2 separate regions of the Homo sapiens genome follow, and region 2 is linked to region 1. The links come from fine-mapping of genetic effects on gene expression. A gene starts in region 1. The other region holds a variant in brackets. All regions are shown on one strand. Distances are from middle to middle. Region 1 holds the start of TMEM165 (transmembrane protein 165). Region 2 overlaps SRD5A3 (steroid 5 alpha-reductase 3).

The links.
Region 2: its variant is fine-mapped to the expression of TMEM165 in tibial nerve (GTEx, PIP above 0.99).

The regions. Positions count from the first base shown.
Region 1 is chr4:55,390,001-55,401,610 of GRCh38, reverse strand. It overlaps TMEM165 (transmembrane protein 165), which reads right to left and starts at 5,654. Exons shown (of 6, transcript NM_018475.5): 1 at 5,215-5,654. The coding sequence starts at 5,421. RefSeq lists an enhancer at 3,429-3,478 and silencers at 4,979-5,448, 5,649-5,848.
Region 2 is chr4:55,358,764-55,370,373 of GRCh38, reverse strand. SRD5A3 (steroid 5 alpha-reductase 3) reads right to left here. Exons shown (of 5, transcript NM_024592.5): 2 at 10,886-11,028; 3 at 6,103-6,300; 4 at 2,652-2,786; 5 at 1-542. The coding sequence ends at 283. It overlaps SRD5A3-AS1 (SRD5A3 antisense RNA 1), which reads left to right. Exons shown (of 4, transcript NR_037969.1): 4 at 3,211-3,773. Among named protein-coding and RNA genes, the nearest start is that of LINC02928, 13 kb to the left of the region's middle. RefSeq lists enhancers at 4,422-5,109, 5,110-5,798. The variant G/A (reference allele first, on the strand shown) is at 5,422.

The sequences.
Region 1 (11,610 bases):
TACTCTCACAGCTGAAACGTAATAAATAAATGAAATACCAAAACATAAAGTAAAAATATGATAACAAGAACAGGCACTGAGTCAGGTAATGATTTTGTGGCTTTATTAGAAGTGCTATGCAACCAGAGTCATTCTTCTTTGGACTTCCAGAATATGCAATAAAGTCTAAATGACTTTTATTAAATCTATCTGATCTCCCTCAACTCAAAGGACTTATGTTTCTTATATTACATATTCTGTCCAGGGAAAGAGTAAGAAAAAACTATTGAGTAAGTCACTAGAAACATAAACTGCAGAAAAGATAGGATCCAAGTAATCAACAACACTTTTTATCATGGGTTTGTAAATTGGGGGTTAATCTTGATTTTAAGTTCATATTACTTACCAACCTTTTTTTAGCCTAATTATAGAGAAAAGCACATACTCAATGTAGAATGCCCTGTTAGAAGTTCAGTCACCTTGCTTTTAGCATCCTATAAGATACAACTAGGTTTTTATAACATATCTTCCACTTGAATGCCTACTAACCAAGGAGAGATGCTTCCCCCCTCCATTTTCAGAAGCCCACTCTCACACAGTGGCACAAAAAGGTTAAATTTAAATATCCTACCTACCCTCTTAAAACATCTACTGCATGTAGTTGCAAAGCAAATCCGTTGAAACTTACATATTCAGCAAGGCTCAACTCTTGCTAATACTGCTGTTAAACTGTACTTTGATCATTTCTTACCTCCATCAGGTGGACAAAAATAGCCAATGACACTTATATTACATAGTTTAGAAAACATGTGAAAGAAAAATCTTTCAGCATAGTGAGTACCGTAGAGGAAAAAATACTTGAGTAGTATCAAAAAGTTACATAAAAATATAATTAAGGCCAGGCGTGGTGGCTCACTCCTGTAATCCCAGCACTTTGGGAGGCCGAGGCAGGCGGATCACCAGGTCAGGAGATGGAGACCTCCTGGCTAACACGGTAAAACCTCGTCTCTACTAAAAATACAAAAAATTAGGCGGGCATGGTGGCGGGCGCCTGTAGTCCCAGCTATGCTGGAGGCTGAGGCAGGAGAATGGCGTGAGCCTGGAAGGCAGACCTTGCAGTGAGCCAAGATCACGCCACTGCACTCCAGCCTGGGCGACAGAGTGAGACAAAAAAATATATATATATTATATATATTATATTTTTATATTTTAATATAAATATATTAATTATATTAATATTATTTATTATTATTATATTAATATAATTAATTATATTAATATAATATAATTAATATTATATTATATATAATACAGTATTAATATTATATATAATATTATATATAATATATAATATTATATTATATATTATATATTAATATAATATAATATTAATTACATTAATATATTAATATATAATATAAATATAAATTATATATTTATATATTATTTTTTATATATATTATATATATAAAATAAAAACAAGACAAGGCCAGGCATGATGGCTCATGCCTGTAATCCCACCACTTTGGCAGGCCAAGAGGGGAAGATCCCTTGAGCCCAGGAGTTTGAGGGCAGGCTGAGCAACATAGTGAGACCCTGTCTCTAAAAAAAAAAAAAAGGAAGAAAAGAAGACAATTATATTCTATTATAATACAAAATTAGAATAAACAATAATAAATAAATGCCTAACTAAAATGAATCACCAAGAATATATGAAAATATTAAACGGAAAAATCATATTATATTATACCCACCCTTCCCTCCATACCCCTAGTTTTAAAGACAAGGATCCCTTCCCAGCTACTCAGAAGGCTGAGGCAGGAGGATGGCCTGAGTCCAGGAGCTGGAGGCTGCAATGAGTTATGAGCTATAAGAAGACCTTGTCTCTATAAAAAAAATTAAATAAAACTTTAAAAGACAAGAATCCTTAAGACCATTTAATATGTTTACTGGACACTGTTTCTACCACTGTGGCATTCTGCATGGCTAGATTTTTCCTAGCTTCTTAAAAAGGATATTAGTAGCTCTACACCTACCATCATTTCTATCTTAAAAATTCCAATATGACTAAAACTTCAACAAAATACCTGCAAAGTTACATATTCATAATCTCTCACTCACACAATTAACTTAATCCAAAATAGTTATTGTTTTAAAATAAATGTGATACTGGGGTAAATGACAGGGCTAAAAGATGAACACTAAGAATTAAGTTCATCAATCAGCGTTTCAGTTCAATTACTGAAGTGGACATGTCAAGCAGGGTCAGCTGAGCCAGGAGCGACAAGCAGGGCAGTGTAAATGGGAACCCCACTCCTAAGCATATGGCTGGGGGTAGCAGGGCAGGCAGAAGGAAAAAGATGGAGAAGCCCACTCACCTCTTTGCTCTCCCCAAGTGGACTAAAGACCCTGGCTTCACATGTTAAATGATTCACACTTCTTGTACACCTCTGACATCACTGCATTATATCTCTCTGTTACCATGGGTTATTTACTCGTTGAGTTCCAGTGCTTTTGATCTTCTCTTTTTCTCTTTTTAAAAAAAACTTTATAAGAGTCCCGGAATTAACTATATAGTCAGCTGAAAATAAACTGTCTAAACCAACACCAATCCAATAATGGTTACAAAATCACATTATATCCAGCAGATGATAAAAGCTTAGTTCTCTTAATTCCATCTGGTGGATCCCTTGCAACTTAAAAAAAAAAGGTTGGATAGACACTATTAAAAATCGGGTTGTTGTTTTTTTTTTTTTTTCCTGGTTGAGTTTATTTTACAGCCAGTTTTTCCAGAAAGGTATTTAACAGCTGATATAAACTTGACATGCAACTACTTCAACCCAGTCTTAGAAAATTAGTTAATAAATGCCAAGAACAGACAAGGTCTTCTGGAATAGACAGATGAGTAAGCCAGAGTCATGCTCTCAAGACACCTAAAAGCTAGTAGGGGCAGATAAAACACGCACACAACTTGCAAGAACCCAAGGCAGCAAGATGTGTGTGTAAACATGCCACAACATACACAATAAAGTTCCCAAAAAAGGAGAAAGAGAAAGCTAGGCTCAAGATCAAAGAACTGCACCAGCATACAATCCAATAAACCATTAAAATCCATTAGTGAATTAAATAAGTCAAAAGAGTAAGACACAATGAATGCTAATAAAACTTAGTAAGGCACAGAAGTCCAGATTCTAATTCTGGTTCTGCTGAAACTAGCTTCTAGCTCTGTGATATTAAACCACTATTCCTTACAAACCTCCTCTACCTGTTTAACGTGCTGTTGTGAGGATTAAATCGGCTCCCAGAATCTTCACTTCCCAGTAACTTTATCTCCCAGATTCCCTCCCATATCAGAATCTCCTCATAGGCAGTTAGTTATTCAACTTCTTCCTGAGTACTTCCAGTAAGGGGAACTTCATTATTTCTCAATAGCGATTACTACATCTGGGACAGCACTGATTCTTACAAATGTTCTTGCTTAGTGAAACCAAGATCAGTCTCTCAGAAAGTTCTATCCTACGGTCTTACACAGAAAAACAACAGAAAATTGGAAAAGCCTAAGAAAGTAACATGTAACGAAAACATGAAACACGAAAACAATGCACCGGTGTGAGAGCTCACCAGCACTTGGGAGGCCAAGGCCGGAGAAGCGCTTGAGCCCAGGAGTTTGAGACTAGACTCGGCAACATAGTGAGACCTCCTCTCTCAAAAAAAAAAAAAATAAACAAAAATTAGCCGGGCGTGTCAGCACACGCATGCAGTCCCAGCCACTCAGGAGGCTGAGGTGGGAGGATCAATTAGAGGTTGCAGTGAGCCAAGACGGGGCCACTGCACTCCAGCCTGGGCGACAGAGCGAGACCCTGTCTCAACAAAGAAAAAGGAAAAAGGAAAGGAAGGGAGAAAGGAAAGGAAAAAGGAAAGGAAAGGAGAAATGAAAGGAATGGAAAGGAAAAAGGAGAAAGGAGAGGAAAGGAAAAAGGAGAAAGGAGAGGAAAGGAAAGGAAAGGAAAGGGTCAGATAAATCACCCTTAACCAAGAAATTTTAGGGAAGTCTTCACAGAGAGTAGGTATCTGCTGGTTCTCCAAGGTGGGAAGAGTTGATCCGTGGCTTCAAACTCCAGGTCTTTTTTTTTTTTTCTTTGAAAAGGTCTTGTGTTAGGGAGGAACTGGCAAGAGAGCACAAAGCCTGTCCCAAAGGGCTCTTGAAGCACATTCTTTTTTGCAGATGAGCATATCCCTTTAGCATATGAGCAAGAAAGCGGTGGCTAAAAAGCCTGGAGGTGAGCTGGAGCCAGATCAGAAGAAACCTGAACATCACTCTCCTAAAAAGGCTGGACTGAAATTAGTGGAGGCAACTCACCGACGACTTCTGACAAGATGGCAGAATTCAATGTTCGGGAAGATTAGTTACGTGGAGATGGGCTGGATGTGGCCTGGGTGGGAGTGGGGGTTTGAGTGCCACACTGGCCGGGATTCAGGGAGCAGATACTGGAAATGACGACAAAGCCCACGACTGGGAGAAGGGAGAAATGTTAAAACGCTGCCAAGTGACTAAGGACTAATTCTATTAACAGATTAAAAAGTTGATTTCTAGTATCTATTCAGGGAAGGACAAAATACAGGATTCTGTTTTACTTATAAATGTAGTTTTGGCATCCCACATCGCTGCAGCACGCTGTACTGCCGGAGACTAATTCCTCTGCGTTCCTAAAGGCTACTTCCTGCTAGCCAAAGCACATTTTTAAAAAGTGAGAGTCATGGTTCATAATCCATATTTGGCAAAAAGCACAGGCAGTGCCAAGTTGAATTTGGGTAAGCAGTTTGGCATAAGCTATTTCAACAATGAAATGGCCGATGTGATGATCCTCAGGGAATACAAAAAGCCTCCTAGCAGCCTTCTGTTAAAAACTTTTTGGTAGGGATGAGTCTTTCTAGCTACTCTAAGACACATCTGATCAATAAAACGCCCATCCCGGAGCAGCATCTTGGCCCTCCGGAGATCAACGTTTATAGCGGGCTCCTCTTGGACTCTCCCTCTCCCTTTCCCTAAAGGAGCGGGCAAGACCAGGCCTCACCGGAAAACAGCGCAGCCGACCGCCCTCCACCCCGGGAGCAGGGGCCGGGCTCCCCTCCCCCAGCCGAGGCCGGCGGAGTGCGGCGCTTTCAAAGGCCTGGAGCCTGGTACTCGGCGCAGCCGGCCCTGCAGCCTCGCTCGCCCCATCCCGGCCCGCTCACCTCGACCCGGGCCGGCTCGGGGCCCTGCACAGCCACAGGCTGCGGCTGCAGCTGCTGGGCCGGCGCCGGCGGTTCTTTGTTCCGGTGGCTAAGGTCTTCATCTGGGCCGGCCCGGACCGCAGCCGGGGCCCACAGCAGCGGAACCAGAAAGAGCAGAAGCAGCCGGGGCGCCGATGCGCGGCCGTTCCCTGGAGCCGCGGCCGCCATCCCGCCTGCCGGGCCGGCCGCGCACGGGCGCCGCAAGAGGAAGTGCCGGCGACGGGAAGCCTCGACCCCGAACAGCCTCCGCGGCGCGTCCTCACGACTCGCCGCCGCCGCCGCTTAGGGAGCAGTCAGCACCATCCGGGAGGTGCAAGCAGCGGGAGTGAGGTGAGGGGCAGGCCGAAGTCCGCAGCCCCGGCTCGGCGCCCGTCCTCTCCGGCGGCGGCTAAACTGGAGTCAGCCAGCTGCCTCGGCGCGGCCCAGCCCCGACTCCTCCCGGCCCCGTCCCTGCCCGCGACGGCCTCCCATTGGCCCGGCGACCGCCTTGGCGTCGTGACGTCCTCTGCCAGGTTGAGGTGCGGCGCGGGCCCTCCTCCCATTGGATCCGGCGCTCCCGGCAGGTACCCGGCGCCGCGTGTCCTTCCTCTGCTCGCATCCTCACCGCGCCGCGCCCGGGGCTCCCTTTCTCTCTCTGTGCCCCACCGTCCCAGGACTGCGAGGTCCTTCACTTCTGCTTCCTCCAGAGCCTTCCGCCGTAATGTCCGCACCCGCTGTTCCCTGCGCTTAGTCTCTCTTAGAGGTCAAATTAGTGCGAGCGCCTCTGGTTACGTGGCGCTGACTCGCAGGCACTGCCACGCCCAGCTCTGTTCCGCTCTCCCCCGCCGAGCCTCTGTGCCACCCTCCATGTGGCCACCTACCGCCAAAAACGTTCTTAGGAGCTCAAAATGCTATTTTTTTTTTAAAGTTCTGAAATGGGATTTGGAAATAACATGACATTTTTCAAGCCTTGTTTTAAGATACTGCCTATAATTACCCCAGACCAAAAATGGCTAACGTTGCCCTTGTCCAGTATGGCCTTGACGTTTTGGGTGCATCTTGTTTTGTGCTATTCCTTAGACCCTTTAAAAATGCTGGGCTTTTGAAATGGACTGTTTAAGACTTTTGCAGGATGGAGCTTTGAGTGGGCAAGACTAGAAGACAGGAAAGGATGGTCTTGAGTTAGGCTTGAGAATATTTTTACGTCTTCCCAAAAGAAAAAGTGAGCTACTTAATTACCATAAGTTTGAGACCTAGTCCCTAATAAAAATCGATAGTGCTAACCATGTGCCAGGCACTAATCTAATATTATACATATTTACATACAGTAAACCTGTACTCAGTAAAGAGCTAAGGAAGTTTATCACTAACTGAAACAAAAAATTAATCCACCAAAACAATCTGTGGGAAAGTGGGCAAACCTACTTTGAGTTCACCAAAGATACAGTGTTTGTCACAGGATAATAAAATTTCCGTCTGTTTTTTTGTTTTGTTGTTTTCTTTGTTTTTGTTTTTGAGACGGAGTTTCGCGCTTGTTGCTCAGGATGGAGTGCAATGGTGAGATCTCGGCCCACTGCAACCTCCTCCTCCCGGGTACAAGAGATTCTCCTGCCTCAGCTTCCCGAGTAGCTGGGATTACAGGCATGCTCCACCATACGCGGCTAACTTTGTAATTTTAGTAGAGATGGGGTTTCTCCATGTTGGTCAGGCTGGTCTCGAACTCCAGACCTCAGGTGATCTGCCGGCCTCGTCCTCTCAAAGTGCTGGGATTACAGGTGTGAGCCACCGCGGCCGGCCTCCGTCCATGTTATTCTGTCCGTAATTCCCCTTCTTCCATTCTCTCCTTGTAAACTCCTACTCATACTTCCAAAACCTATTCAAGCTTCCACTCTCAGAACTTTTCCCCAACACATGGCGTTACAGAATTTGTCACTTGTTCCTTCATGTTATTGCTTTATGCATTCTTCTATTACTGTGTAAGTAGGATGCCTCCACTTACAGTTTGGGGTGTGTTAAAAGAAAAACCTTAGACAAATTAAACTTAACAGCGTTTAATCAAGCAAAGAACCCAAAGAATGATCTGCAAATCAAAAAGACCCCAAATCAAAGTAAGTTCAGAGAGGCTCCAGTCTTGCCGAGTGGTCGGAAAAAATAAAGTGACTTACAGAAAACATAATTGAGGGACAGAAACAGCTGGATTGGTTGTAGCTCAGGTTTGCCCTATTTGAACACGGTTTGAACAGTTGGCCACTTGTGATTGGCCAGAACTCTGTGATTGGTACAAGAATAGGTTACAGTCTGTTTACATACCCAATTAGGCTACAGTTCACCATGTATGGGGAAACCTTTAGGCCTAACTTAAAATATGTAAGGAGGCAGCTTTACACTAAATTTAACAGATGCAACTATCATCCCTGGAGTGCAAATGTTTGAGCTTTCAGAAGCCAGTAATAACATAAAACCCAGAAGCCCAAACTTCAACTACCTCCCCTTAATGCATACAGGATTTGCTGTGCTTAAAAGGGGCCTGAAAGGGAGGCTTGAGGTCCCAAGGGAGGGACCTGAAAGGAGCAGCTTAGGCTGAAGACAGAGCCAGAAGGGTGAATGTAGCAAAACTGGCTGTGTGTCCCTCATTGCTGAAAGCTGCTTTGTTTATTTTCTAGGATGGGCTGCCCACACTCCAGGGCTTTCTCACAGGAAGGACTCCTGGCCAAATTCAGTCATCTCAACATATGAGGCAGTGAGGACTTCTGGGCTACAGCTGCAGGATGCTGAAGCACCAGCTGCTGAGCATGCAGTGGTTCAGGGGCAAGGCAGCAAAGCTATTTGGCAGAAGATGTAACATAAATGGAGATAGAGCATTGGCGAACTGGCACAGTGGTGTCAGCAAAGCATCAGAATCTGGGCCAGAGTGAGACCTTTCTAGCCTGCCCCAGTGTCACCCTGATCCAAGGGCCTTCAGGTGCTGCCAGGCTAGGCTCTAGGTGTCTGATTCTCATGGGATCTGGTATTTCTGTTTCCACACACATCTACCTCCTGGGATCCGTGCTCAGGCGTGCTAAATCGAGGCTGGCTCCAGTTTTCACCACCTTGAGGGTTTAGAGCCATCATCCTTCTAGTCCTCATTGGTGACTAACTCCCTTAAAAAAAGCAATTAAAAAACTATAGGAGCTTTCCTGATACCTTTCTTGAAGGACAACTGAAGCTACTTATTTAACCCCCTACCCAATAAGGATGTGGGTGGCGCAACAATTCCAAGATGATATATTTTTTAATCATAGCCTACACCGATATAGTCTTACTAAAATGTAACCACTGTCAGGCATCCTATGGAAAGAAACCCTACTACATGTGCATTACATTGTATTTTATTTAATTAATTTATTTATTTATTTTTGAGGTGGAGTCTCGCTCTGTTGCCCAGGCTGGAATGCAGTGGCAAGATCTCGGCTCACTGCAGCCTCCGCCTCCCGGGTTCAAGCAATTCTCCTGCCTCAGCCTCCTGAGTAGCTGGGATTACAGGCATGTGCTACACGCCCCACTAATTTTTTGTATTTTTAGTAGAGACGGGTTTACCATGTTAGCCAGGATGGTCTTGATCTCCTGACCTCGTGATCCGTCCGCCTTGGCCTCCCAAAAGTGCTGGGATTATAGGCATGAGCCACTGTGCCTGACCTATATTTTATTTTTTATTTATTTATGTAGAGATGGAGTCTCGCTCTGTCACCCAGGCTGGAGTGCAGTGGTGCGATCTCAGCTCACTGCAACCTCTACCTCCCAGGTTCAAGCGATTCTCCTGCCGCAGCCTCCAAAGTAGCTGGGACTATAGGCGCCCGCCACCATGCCTGGCTAATTTTTGTATTTTTAGTAGAGACAGGGTTTCACCATGTTAGCAAGGCAGGTCTCGAACTCCTGACCTCAAGTAATCCATCCACCTCGGCCTCCCAAAGTGCTGGGATTGCAGGTGTGAGCCACTGAGCCGGGCCTGCACTGTATTTTAATGTCTTTTATTCCAACACCCTTACTAAGCCTTAAGCTTCTAGATGGTAAGGTTATGCCTTTTATCTTTATATTTCTAGCACCTAGTAGATTATATAAGAAGGTAATGGGAATAGTTATCATTAAAGTAGTAGTAAAACTTTATTGAATGCTATTCTGATCCAGTCAGAGCACTAAGTGTGTTACATGAATTATTTCTATCCTCCTTTTTGCAAATGAGAAATCTGAGACTTAGGTCAAGGAACTTTCCTCAAATTACACAGCTAGTAAGTAGCAGAATTATGCCTCATACCTGTTTGTTGAATTCACCTATGCTCCACTTACTGAAAATCTACTTTATGAAAATTTAAATATATAAGACCAGCCAATTAATTAATGGTGAACATTTTCATTAACTGTTAGAGAATGCTGTTTCTCCACTCTAGGGTTCTATTGAAAAGGACTATTTCCTGCTGGGTGCGGTGGCTCATGCCTGTAATCCCAGCACTTTGGGAGGCCGAGGCGGGCGGATCATGAGGTCAGGAGTTTGAGACCAGCCTAGCCAATGTAGTGAAACCTCGTCTCTACTAAAAATACAAAAGTTAGCCAGGCGTAGTAGTGTGTGCCTGTAGTCCCAGCCACTTGGGAGGCTGAGGCAGAAGAATCGCTTGAATCCGGGAATTGGAAGTTGCAGTGAGCCAAGACCGCGCTACTACACTCCTGCCTGGGCGACAGAGAGATGCTCTGTCTCAAAAAAAAAAAAAAAAGAAAAAGAAAAGGACTATTTCCTGGCCTCTTTCAGTGCCTTCGTCATTCCCCTCTGATAATGTAGAGTCCATCTGAGCAGGGTAACTGAGCATATTGGGCTCAGCTTCATTGCCTTCTTCCTCTGGGGAGACAGACCCCTAAGGGAAAAACATTATCTGCTGTTCTCTCCAGGGCTTGCCCCTAGCCCAGTGCAGCCTGCAACTCAACAGCTCTTGATTCTGGAGTTCAGTATTAGCCCAGTCCACCTGGCCACCAGACCTAAAACTATTCCTTCCAACCCGGCCTCCTGTCTGTGTCACTCTCTGTTTTCATCCTCAATGTTTCAGAAATAGGGAGAAGTGAGCTATTTCCTGAGCTCTGCTGGAGAACCCTCCTTCCCCATAATCAGCAAAGGGCCGATTAAAGTTTTTTCCTTAAATAGTCCACAGAGCAAAGGTTGGTTAAAGAAGCCAGGGCAGGGAGATATGAGGAAAGAGGAGAAGCAAAAACCAGAAACTTCACGCTAAGAGTCAACTGAAGATCATTCAAATTTAAAGCACTCAGGCTGGGCACGGTGGCTCACACCTGTAATCCCAGCACTTTGGGAGGCCGAGGCAGCTGGATCACCTGAGGTCAGCAGTTTGAGACCAGCCTGACCAATGTGGTGAAACCCTATCTCTACTGAACATACAAAAATTAGCTGGGTGTGGTGCCGTGTGCCTGTGGTCCCTGCTACTTGGGAGGCTGAGGCAGGAGATGGCTTGAACCCGGGAGGTGGAGGTTGCAGTGAACTGAGATCACACCACTGCACTCCAGCCTGGGCAACAGAGCAAGACTCTGTCTCAAAAAAAAAAAAAAAAATTAAAGCACTCAGCAAATGTAAGTGAATGACGAATAGCAATATGCAACTTGCTTGACCTTCTCAACTCTTTAAAGCTCATGAAACGAAGCACACTGCTACCCATCAGCTTGCTAAACCCCTTTAAATGATGGGGATCTGGACCCTTGTATGCGAACTCTGCTGGTGCAGGGGAAAGGGAGGGCAGCTGTTTCCCTACATTCTTGGGCTTTCCTAGGTTTCCACAAGCAGGCTGAAAATTCCAAAAAGAATGCTAAATACATGCTCCAGGTTCATTTATCCAACTCTTTCCTTGCATCACCTTCTGGATGTTTCACAGGCATTTCCAACAGAGCAAGGGCAAAACAGGTCTTTTGATGTCCCTCCAAAAACCTGTTCCTCCTTCAGGCTTTCCATCTTAGTAAATGGAACCAACATCCACCATATTAGATTACTCCATTAGATTCCCCATACCCCACATCCAATCCACCAGCAAATTTTGTCTCTAATTTTAAAATCTATCTGAATCTGTTCACCTCTATCTCCACTGTTACCACCTTGTACAAACCAGGTGTCATTTCTCACCTGGACAATTAAATGGGCTCCTAATTGGTCTCCCTGCCTCTGCCAATCTAGAATCTAACCAGCAGCCAGAATGAGCTTTCAAAATTAAAATAATTTCATTCCACTGCTTAAAAGTAATGACTTCTAAATGGGCAGAGAATAAAGATAAAACAATCTCTGAATGAAAGTTTAATGTGAGCTCGGCTGGGTGCGTTGGCTCACACCTGTAATCCCAGCACTTTGGGAGGCTG
Region 2 (11,610 bases), 31 kb after region 1:
GTCTCATCTACTTTTTATCAGTTGGTTGGTTTTAGAAAGCATCTCAGAAAGTGGACCCAGAAATCGCAGATCTGCCATTAGTATTTATTCTTTGAAGATACTTTGGAGATTCATTTTCTTGAGTGGCACTGCCATGCTCATTCAGTGAAAACTTGTGGGGTATAGAAATGGAATGGAGAGTTTCAAACAGCTTTGCTGAAACTGTACTTTGGGCTCCAGACTTCACTGTCCTTAGGCATTGAAACCATCACCTGGTTTGCATTCTTCATGACTGAGGTTAACTTAAAACAAAAATGGTAGGAAAGCTTTCCTATGCTTCGGGTAAGAGACAAATTTGCTTTTGTAGAATTGGTGGCTGAGAAAGGCAGACAGGGCCTGATTAAAGAAGACATTTGTCACCACTAGCCACCAAGTTAAGTTGTGGAACCCAAAGGTGACGGCCATGGAAACGTAGATCATCAGCTCTGCTAAGTAGTTAGGGGAAGAAACATATTCAAACCAGTCTCCAAATGGGATCCTGTGGTTACAGTGAATGACCACTCCTGAAAGGGTAAAAGAAGATCTCATAAGCATTTAAAGGTTTGAAAAGAAAGTTTCACCACTTCACTCGCAAATCATTTACAGAATTTTTTTTTTTTTTTTTGAGGCAAAGTCTTGCTCTGTTGTCCAGGCTGGAGTGCAGTCGTGCAGTCATGGCTCACTGTAGTCTCAACCTTCCAGGCCCAGGCAATCCTCCCATCTCAAACTGCCCAGTGGCTAGTACCACAGGTATGCATCACCATGCCTGGCTCATTTTTTGAATTTTTTGTAGAGACAGGGTCTGCCTATGTTGCCCAGGTTGGTCTCAAACTGCTGGGCTCAAGTGATCCTCCCACCTCAGCCTCCTAAAGTGCTGGGATTACCAGTGTGAGCCAACCTGCCCAGCCCAGAAACTCTTATTTAGAAAAGAGTATCATACATGTGTGTAAACCACCATCCTGTCACACTTCTACTGTCAATTACATATTGAAAAGTTATATGCTTAGGTTAAATTGTCAACTGTCCATAGCACAAGAGAAAAGCCAGTTACTCCAGCAATCCTCCAAGCTAGTAATTAAGAGCTCAGACTACTCCAGAGTCAGACTGCACAAGTTTAAATCCTGGCTCTCCCACTTACTAGCTGTGTAACTTTAGATAAGTTGCTTAACCTCTTTGTGCCTTAGTTTCCTCATCTGTAAAATGAAGACCGGACTGTAGTCATCTCATGTCGGCATTGTGAAGCTATATGTAAAGCACTCAGAACAGGGCCTGGGACAAAATAAGTACTTGATAAATATTAAAACTATTCAGTTTTTTGGCTGGGCGCGGTAGCTTATGCTTGTAATCCTAGCACTTTGGGAGACTGAGGTGGGCGGATCACCTGAGGTCAGGAGTTCAAAACCAGCCTGGCCAACATGGTGAAACCCCAGCTCTACTAAAAATATAAAAATTAGCCAGATGTGGTGGCACACGCCTGTAATCCCAACTACTTGGGAGGCTGAGGCATGAGAATTGCTTGGATCCAGGAAGCGGAGGTTGCAGTGAGCTGAGATGGTGCCACTGCACTCCAGCCTGGGTGACAGAGTGAGACTCTGTCTCAAAAATAAATAAATAAAATAAATAAATAATAGGCCGGGTGTAGTGGTGCACGCCTGTAATCCCAGCACTTTGGGAGGCCGAGGTGGGTGGATCACCTGAGGTCAGGATTTCGAGACCACCCTGGCTAACATGGCAAAACCTTGTCTGTACTAAAAAATACAAAAATTAGCTGGGCATAGTGGTGCGCACCTGTAGTCCCAGCTACTTGAGAGGCTGAGGCGGGAGAATCACTTGAACCCTGGAGGCGGAGGTTGCAGTGAGCCGAGATTGTGCCACTGCACTACAGCTTGGGTAACAGAGCAAGACTCCATCTCAAAAATTAAATAAATAAATAAATAAATAAATAAATAAATAAATAAAACTATTCAATTTTTTTTTTTGAGACAGTCTAGCTCTGTCACCCAAGCTGGAGCGCAGTGGCGTGATCTCAGCTCACTGCAACCTCCGCCTCCCAGGTTCAAGTGATTCTAGTGCCTCAGCCTCCCAAGTAGCTGGGACTACAGGCACCTGCACCACCGCACCCAGCTAAGTTTTGTATTTTTAGAAGAGACGGGGTTTTGCCATGTTGGTCAGGCTGGTCTTGAACTCCTGACCTCAAGTGATCCTCCTACCTTGGCTTCCCAAAGTGCTGGAATTACAGGCGTGAGCCACTGCGCCTGGCCTATTCAATTTTTAATATTTCAAAAAACCTAATGGAAACTATACCTGTGATAAGTCAACACAAGCTAACTTAAAGGTCAAGTTTTTATGCTGTGGCTGGTACTAACTCCATGGTAACACTAGCTCTCACATGCTGATCAGACACAAAACGTAGAATCACAGAATGTCAGGGCTACTTGGGTCTAGAGAGGTCTTTCAATGTAAGGCTCTCATTTTCACAGATGGGAAGATCAAGGCCCAGAGAAGTGTCTTGCCAAAAATCAATATTTGATACAGTCAACTAACTAGGGCAGGAAGGAAAAGCATGCAGGACCATGGAGAACTAACTTCTGAGGGTTAAAATCCATATGCAGAGGCTCTAAAAGAGGTCTCACCTGCTTTATTTTTCCTGAGATTGCCGAGAATAACATGGCACTTATACTGATGGGCAGATGACCAGATGAACATCATCATCCCAAGAATATGGAACCACCGTGCTTGCATCAATAGATTTTTCCCTGTTATGTAGGCTATAGGAATGAGAATTGTTAGCCAACACTAAACAATTTCACAGGCTCAGGGAATTAAACAAATCATTTAGTCAGCAGAAACACAATTATCCACTTATTCCGTTCCTCAATATCCTAATATAATTTCCCAAGTACAAAGAGGGGAACCTGTTCCTCAATATCCCGATGTAATTTCCTGATGTAATTTCCCAATACAGAGGGAAAAGCCCTGTCTCTCTGGACAAAGGAGATACGTTCCTCAGCTATGGGCAGCTTCAGTTCCCCTGGCAAGAGAATTCCACACAGACACATTCTCTTGCTTCTTCTCTAAACAGTTCAAGCACAAAGTTCAGCTCCCCTACTGTGATCTACTTTCGAATGGTAAGATTCCTTTGTGTTTCCCTTGCTAAGTCCAGTTTTAAGTCTTCTTTCTTATGTTTTACAGTGAAGAAAAACACTTTCTAAGGAAATCTCTCTCTGAGCTACCATCCTGCTAGGGAGAGCCTGAAAGCAGAATGCTGACTTGACTAGCTCTGGTCAATGAAAGAAATCACCAGTGGAAAGGCTACCAGGGGGCTTTCTCAAAAGAGAGGGACAGTAAACTGCAAGATGAACAACTCAATGCCATCCAGGTCTGGATGAGAAAGAACAGTCGAGAGACTGAGTTTCAGGAGTGGAAACACTCAAAGCATCATCTTCCACTTTCTTCTCCGGCTGCTAGGAAGAAGGGAAAAACACAGACCTTCTGAGGACCTGCGGAGCAAACCACTGGCTTCAGAAAAGCAAACAGGGACTTCCCTCTGCGCAGCAGGAAGCAGTTAGCCTAGTCGGAGGCTTGACTGAAGAAACAAATGTATCCACTGATAATGGGCAAGAGCCTGAGGCTCTGGAGCCAAGGGGGAACCCTAAAAAGCTGATTCAAGTAAGAGAACCAAGGATCATGCAATTCCACATGGCCACCTCGAAGCAGGAATCCGTTAATGATAGTAAAGGACTGATGAAAATCCACCGGTCTACCTGTGTCAGTTTATTTTAAAAGCTTGTTTTATATAATCAATCTACTATAGTCTTTTAGTGTTTACAAGTTTAGCCATTTAACTACTAGGTTATATTTTTATAAGTTCAAAACAGGCTGGGTACAGTGGCTCACACCTGTAATCCCAGCACTTTGCGGGGGCCAAGGCAGGAGGATCACTTGAGGCCAGGGGTTTGAGACCAGCCTGCCAACATAGCGAGAACCTGTCTCTACAAAAATGAAATAAGCAAAATATTAAAAATACAGTTTTAAATCTGACAGGCTTCAAGAGCAAGTCAACAGGATGAAAAGTTACAGTGTCTGGAAGTTCAAATCACTAAGTCCCTTATGCTAAATGCAGAGAGTTTACCTACAGGAAAAAGGATTTGTTAAGGGTAACGCCAGAATTATAATGCAGGAAAAGGGAGGCAGGTGGAAGGCTCACATTTCCTCAGTTCTACTCAGTATTTAATTATTTGTTTATTCATTAGTTACTTAAGGAGTGCCTCCTAAGCCTGGCCCTGCTGAAGGCACAAAGGATAAAGCAGGGAATAAGTCAGGCAAGATCCCAGTCCTTATAGAGCTTACATCCTAGTTTACAGATAGTCTTCTTTTCACTTTAAGAAGAACCCTGTGAAATCAGTATGTGTCAATAATTACTAATGAAGGCTGTGAGGCTCAGAGAAGCTCAATGAGCCAGATGCAGGCCCATCAAGACTCTGGAGCCCATGTTATTTCTATCACGCCCTTTGGTTGGCAAATGCCCCAATGTGTTTTCTCTCAATGAATTACTGAAACCAACTTTCCCCATATTGTCCTAAATGATCCCAGATGACCCTTGAAGGACAAGGAGGTGAAACAGAAAACAGCTTCAGAAAGGAGTGCTTAGAAAGCTATTTTTGTGGGCTCCTCTTCCTTGACTATCTACGCAGGAGGGAAGGCAGAAGTTGAGACGCAGCCAGTAGAGGAAACTCCGGGAGAGGCAGGTAACGCCAACAAACAAGAACACGCTAAAAGCTAGCAGTCACCAAGCGCTCTGCAAAGTTCCTTTAGGGGGAGAACCAGCACTGCCCACCAGGAATGACAGCCCCTTCCATGGTACTGGCTGGCAGAATGCCACCACAGACATGCCTGGGAGGAATAAGTTCAGAGGAATCAGAGAGATGCTAGCTAAGTGGCTGGAGCCAATCAATAATTCATGAATTGAGAAAGATCGTCAATAAATCCTTTAAAATCACTCCTCTAGTCAGAGGCCTTAGGTTGAGCTACAGCAACAGAGAGACGACTTTCACGGGGCACTCATACCAAAATCTAACCTGAGGAGGAAGCTCACTCACAGATTGTTGGAAATCGCTAGACCTCAGCCTGAGTTTACAAGGATGGACAGGGCAGCTGAAAACATGGAGCCCTGGGTTTAGAGACAATGGTCATTACAGACCTACGGGGTCTAGACTGACAGATACTAAGGCTGCAAGGTCAGGTTAACCTCAGCACTATAAACTCATTCCCATCACCCCAAGCGACTTGAATTCTTTATAATCATGCATTGTTTTTACAAAAATGGTAGTCATATGTGTTAGGTAATGTCCCCTCCTCCCCCCATAAAACAAAAAATCCATTTCATTTCCTTCTCGTAAACAA[G/A]GTCATGGTTTGGCTCCCCTCTTCCTGGCTAGTGAGAGCTTAGAGACTAAAACACAATTTTCACTACCACAGTACTCTTTGTCCTCTCCTCTCAGGCAGCGTCACTTGAAGAAAAGCTCTATTGTGATGGGAACAATCACAGGAACTAAGCGGCAACAAAATGGCTCCCCACCCCCTCTGCAAATCCCAACTCCATGCAAGCACTCTCCCTTCCCTCATTTTCTTTTCTTTTTTTTTGAGATGGAGTCTCGCTCTGTTGCCCAGGCTGGAGTGCAGTAGCGCGATCTCGGCTCACTGCAACCTCCACCTTCTGGTTTCAAGCAATTCTCCTGCCTCAGCCTCCCCAGTAGCTGGGACTACAGGCGTGTGCCACCACGCCTGGCTAATTTTTTTTTTTAATTTTTAGTAGAGACAGAGTTTCACCATGTTGGCCAGGCTGGTCTCGAACTCCTGGCCTCAAGTGATCCACCTGCCTCAGCCTCCCAAAGTGGTGGGATTACAGGTGTAAGCGACCACGCCCGGCCTTTTAAAATCGACTTGAGTCTCATCTCCTGAAATGCAAAATGCATTGGGCCTGTCTCTTACTTCTGCATGTCTCATAATGCTTAGCACAGCACAAGCCCCGAGAGCGCATCATACACCCTGGGGTGGGGAGCTCCTGGCAGGGCTGGATCCACTCACCATTCCTGCCATCCATTGGCACTTGGCTCAGCACAGTTAGGCCAACAAGGACATAATAGACAAGTCCAAAACAGTACTGCACGACGTGAATCATGACATTGGAGAAGACACTGACGTAGAGGCACTCGAAGAGTCTTCGTAAGCTGTGCAGCCACAGAAATACTAGCACTAAGAATGCAGACAGTGCCAGCTCCCCTCCTACAATTCAGAAGGCAACAGGGTCAGCATTTCTCTTCTGGGATTAATCCAAAGTTTTGTTTTTCTGTACTGTTAAGCAAAGTATTAAATCCCATCTAACATCTTTCTTTTTGGTAGTAAGGAAGAAATGGGCCAAATGAAGTCAAGGAATTTGACTTCACTCAAATTACACAGTTCACTGTGTTACACAGTTCACTGGGTTCACAAACACCCATCACTCAATTCTGCTTCATTGTGTGACAGCCTTCCAGGCTTCAGGGACATCACGGTCAGGAGGTCTGTGAAGAGGTCTGTGGGTTTCTGGTCCTGGCACTAACAGCCAGATGCAAACTGGAAGCGTTCCTGGTAGCCTCTGAGTGGCCCCAGCTGTGGGATCCCCAGTATCTCAGGCATCACAGAGGCAGAGAGGGGGACAGGAACAGAAACAGAGTTATGCATTTCTTTCCACATTAAAAAAAAGAAATTATACTTTTAGAGGCATGCTGAGCCCAAGATCTACTTCCTCACCTGTCTTTCACGACCTGCCCACCAAAAAATCTGAAGAAAAGCTGGCTTTAAAAAAACACACACTTAGTTTCTCTTTTTTTCTTTTTTGTTTTTTATTTTTTGGTTAATTTTATGTGTCAACTTCTTTATTTTTGAGACAGGGTCTTGCTCTGTCACCCAGGCTAGAGTGCAGTGGCACAGTCAGGCCTCACTGCAGCTTTGAACTCCTGAGCTCAAGTGATCCTCTGTCTCAGCTTCCTGAGTGGCTAGAACTATAGTCATGTGCCACCACACCTGACTAATTAAAAAAAAATTTTTTTTGTTGCCCAGGCTGGTCTCGAACTCCGGGCCTCAAGCCATCCTCCAGCCTCAGCCTCCCAAAGTGCTGGGATTTTAGGTGTGAGATACCACGCCCAGTCACTTAAAAAAGAAATGAGTCACGGCCGGGGGCGATGGCTCATGCCTGTAATCCTACCACTTTGGGAGTTGGAGGCGGGTGGATTGCCTGAGCTCAGGAGTTCGAGACCAGCCTGGGCAACATGGTGAAACCCTGTCTCTACTAAAAATACAAAAAATTAGCCAGGCATGGTGGTGTGCGCCTGTAGAACCAGCTACTTGGCAGGCTGAGGTAGTAGAACTGCTTGAACCTGGGAGGTGGAGGTTGCAGTGAGCCAAGATTGGGCCACTGCAATCAGCCTGGGAGATAGAGCAAGACTCTGTCTCCATTAAAAAAAAAAAAAAAAAAGTCTCACACACAAACACACACACACGCATGCACACCATAAAGATGCAACTTAATTAACTTTTACAAATTAAGCCAACCAATCCCACCCATGTAACAGCACCCAGATCCAGAAACAGAACACTTTAGGAAGCTGAGGTTGGAGGATCGCTTGAGACCAGGAGTTTGAGACCAGCCTGGGCAACACAGCAGGTACCCCATCTCTAAAAACATTAAAAAAAAAATTAGCTGGGCATAGTGGCGTGCACCTGTAGTCCCAACTACTCAAGAGGTGGAGGAGGGAGGACTGCTCGAGCCCAGGAGTTAAAGGCTGCAGTGAGCTATGATCATGCCACGGCACTCCAGCCTGTACAACAGAGTGAGACCCTCTCTCTTAAAAAAAGAAAAAGAAAGAAAAAAATGAAACAAACAAAAGAAACAGGCTGGATGCGGTGGCTCATGCCTGTAATCCCAGCACTTTGAGAGGCTGAGGCAGGCGGATCACAAGGTCAGGAGTTCAAGACCAGCCTGGCCAACAGAGTGAAACCCTGTCTCTACTAAAAATACAAAAATTAGCCGGGCATGGTGGCGCATGCCTGTAGTCCCAGCTACTCAGGAGGCTGAGGCAGGAGAATCGCTTGAACCCGGGAGGGGTAGGTTGTGGTGAGCTGAGATCAGGCCACTGCACTCCAGCCTGGGCAACAGAGCAAGGCTCCATCTCAAAAAAAAAAAAAAGAAGAAACAGAACACGAACAGCACCCCCTAGTGTAGGCACGACCCCTCCCCCAAACTTCCCATGGGGAACAACCCCTATCAGCACAGATTAGCTTTGACTGTTTTTGTATTTTAAATGAACTAAAACTTAGTTTTAACTCCTTAGGAACAAGTTAAAGCAAACAAATAGAATTCCTCATATCCTCACAACCAACCCTCCAAATACCAAAACACCCCAGTCAGTCTCACAGTAAACAAACGAAGAGATGAAGTTTTAACGAGTGGAGTGAGATCCGCTGATGTAGCCTACCCTTCCAAAGAGGATGTCCACGGGTTTGCTCTTTTTTTTTAGATGGAGTCTCACTCTGTGGCACAGGCTGGAGTGCAGTGGCATGATCTCAGCTTACTGCAACCTTTGCTTCCTGGGTTCAAGCCATTCTCCTGCCTCAGCCTCCTGAGTAAGTGGGATTACAGGCACGCGCCACCACGTCCCGCTAATTTTTTGTATTTTTAGTAGAGACGGGGGTTTCACCATGTTGGCCAGGCTGGTCTTGAACTCCTGACCTCAAGTGATCCACCTGCTTCAGCCTCCCAAAGTGCTGGGGTTATAGGTATGAGTCACTGCCCACTGTTCCCGGCAGGGTTTGCTCTTTTTTTTTTTTTTTTTTTTGAGACGGAGTCTTGCTCTGTCCTCTTAGGCTAGAGTGCAACGTTACAATCTTGGCTCACTGCAACCTCTGCCTCTTGGGTTCAAGCAATTCTCTCTCCTCAGCCTACCGAGTAGCTGGGGTTACAGGCATGTGCCAGCACACCCAGCTAAGTTTTGTATTTTTAGTAAAAACGGGATTTCACCATGTTGGCCAAGGTGGTCTTGAATTCTTGACCTCAAGTGATCTGCTCACCTCAGCCTCCTGAAGTGCTGGGATGAGAGGCATGAACCACCACACCCGGCCGGGGTTTGCTCTTCTGATTGTCATCTTTTGCAACCAGTTTATCTGGTTATACAGAAAAGGATTGTTTCTAGGTGGTTTGGCCACTGGAACAAAGGACAGAGATGAGACTAGAACAATTTGTTTCTAATTCTGCCCCTCACACTCTGCCTGACCTTAATTGAGGACATTTCATAGTTTTCACCTTCAATTCTTTATTTTAAAAACTGTTCTGGCCGGGCGCGGTGGCTCACACCTGTAATCCCAGCGCTTTGGGAGGCCAATGCGGGTGGATCACCTGAGGTCAGGAATTCGAGACCAGCCTGACCAACATGGAGAAACACCATCTCTCTACCAAAAATACAAAATTAGCTGGGCGTGGTGGCACATGGCTGTAATCCCAGCTACTTGGGAGGCTGAGGCAGGAGAATCGCTTGAACCTGGGAGGCAGAGGTTGCAGTGAGCCAAGATTGCACCATTGCACTCCAGCCCGGGCAATAAGAGCGAAACTCCATCTCAGAAAAAAAAAAAAAAACGTTCCATATTCTTCATCCTGATGCTGAGGATGGCAAACTTAAAGGCTATTTTGTAATCGTCTGTTCAACAACTGTTTAGTCAATTTTATTATACTACCAAAGCCTCACAGCATAACTTTTTTTCCATGTTTATCAAAAAGTAATTTTTATTTATTTTATTCATTTATTTATTTATTTTTTTGAGACAAAGTCTCCCTCTGTTGCCCAGGCGTGGAGTGCAGTAGCTCAATCTTAGCTCATGGCAACCTCCGCCTCCCAGGTTCAAGCGATTCTCCTGCCTCAGCCTCCCGAGTAGCTGGGATTACAAGCGCCTGCCACCACACCCAGCTATTTTTGTATTTTTAGTAGAGTTGGGGTTTCACCACATTGGCCAGGCTGGTCTTGAACTCCTGATCTCAAGTGATCTGCCTGCCTTGGCCTCCCAAAGTGCTGGGATTACAGGTATGAATTAAAAAGTAATTTTTTTTTTTTTTGAAACACAGTCTCGCTCTGTTGCCCAGGCTGGAGTGCAGTGGCCCGATCTCAGCTCACTGCAAGCTCCGCCTCTCGGGTTCATGCCATTCTCCTGCCTCAGCCTCCCGAGTAGCTGGGGCTACAGGTGCCCGCCACCATGCCCAGCTAACTTTTTTTTGTATTTTTAGTAGAGACAGGGTTTCACCGTGTTAGCCAGGATGGTCTCGATCTCCTGACCTTGTGATCTGCCCGCCTTGGCCTCCCAAAGTGCTGGGATTACAGGCGTGAGCCACCGCACCCGACAGAAAAAGTAATTTTTAAATCACATTTCTGGAGTTCTAAGTCATGAGTTTGGTTGGAACAGTATAAATGATAAATGTTTCCAGACAAACCTGACAGATCCTAAAAGCTTTCCCCCTTTTGTGTAAAGACTTCTTCATAAATTTATCAACAGTACTAAAAATACCAGAGGGAGGGCAGCCAGTTCTGCACACAACACAGCACTTGCTGGGAAGTCAGGAGCGCTAACTCTTGGCTCTGTCTCCTTCTCAGGGAAGGGCTTAGGGACATCCTTTTGGCCATCCGGCAATGAACCGTGCAAAGCTCTTTTTTGCCCTCATCCTCCACTTCCCAGGCCCTTCTGAGGAGGTGCCGAGAGAGGAGACAAAATGCCAAAAACTGCTCCCTTGCAGACAGGAACAACAGAAACGGGATGCAGCGTTGTCATAAGCCCAGGGAGTCCTTACCCTGGAACTGTGCCGCCCCGAGAATTCTGAGCAAACCATGAAGCCAGCTTGGAAAAGGTGCTCCCAGGAACAGAGATTGAGTAAGGCACCAAAGCAGGAAGCCATTCCACAGCACTGAGATGATATAAAAGTGGGAAAAATATCTGCAAAAGGAAAACAAGCGAGGCAATAATTAGGGTAGATCCACTTCAAGCTCTTATACGGGAAGATTATTTTTAGTTTCTCTGTCTTTCCCCACCCCTCCATTCCCAAAGTATACCTTTGCTTTTTAATAGAATCTGAATCCTATAGGTGTTCAGGTTCTTAAAATTTCCTTTCAAATAACGGGACCAGTTAACTTTCAGGAAAAAGAGGCCTCTCTGAGGTTAACAAGAACACAACCAACTGTGTTAAACTTAGAATAAAGTTTAGTTAGCAATCTCTCTGATTGCTGGGTAACAGAATTGGACTCAAGTTCCCAAAACGGAGGCTGCAGGCCCTTGCAAAGAGAACCTAGACTGTGCTAAAACAAGCTAAATCTGTGAAAGATTTTGATTTCTATATCCCAAACAATATTGCAGTAATAGCCACACAACTGTTACACATGATTTGCATAATCGCAGACACTTGGGGCTAGAGGAAGTAAAAGATCTTCAGGCATGACTCAGTGTTTTTCCAAATTGGGTTGACCTAAATTACTTTTATTATAACATGACTAATACTACAATCATAAAACTAGGTATTAA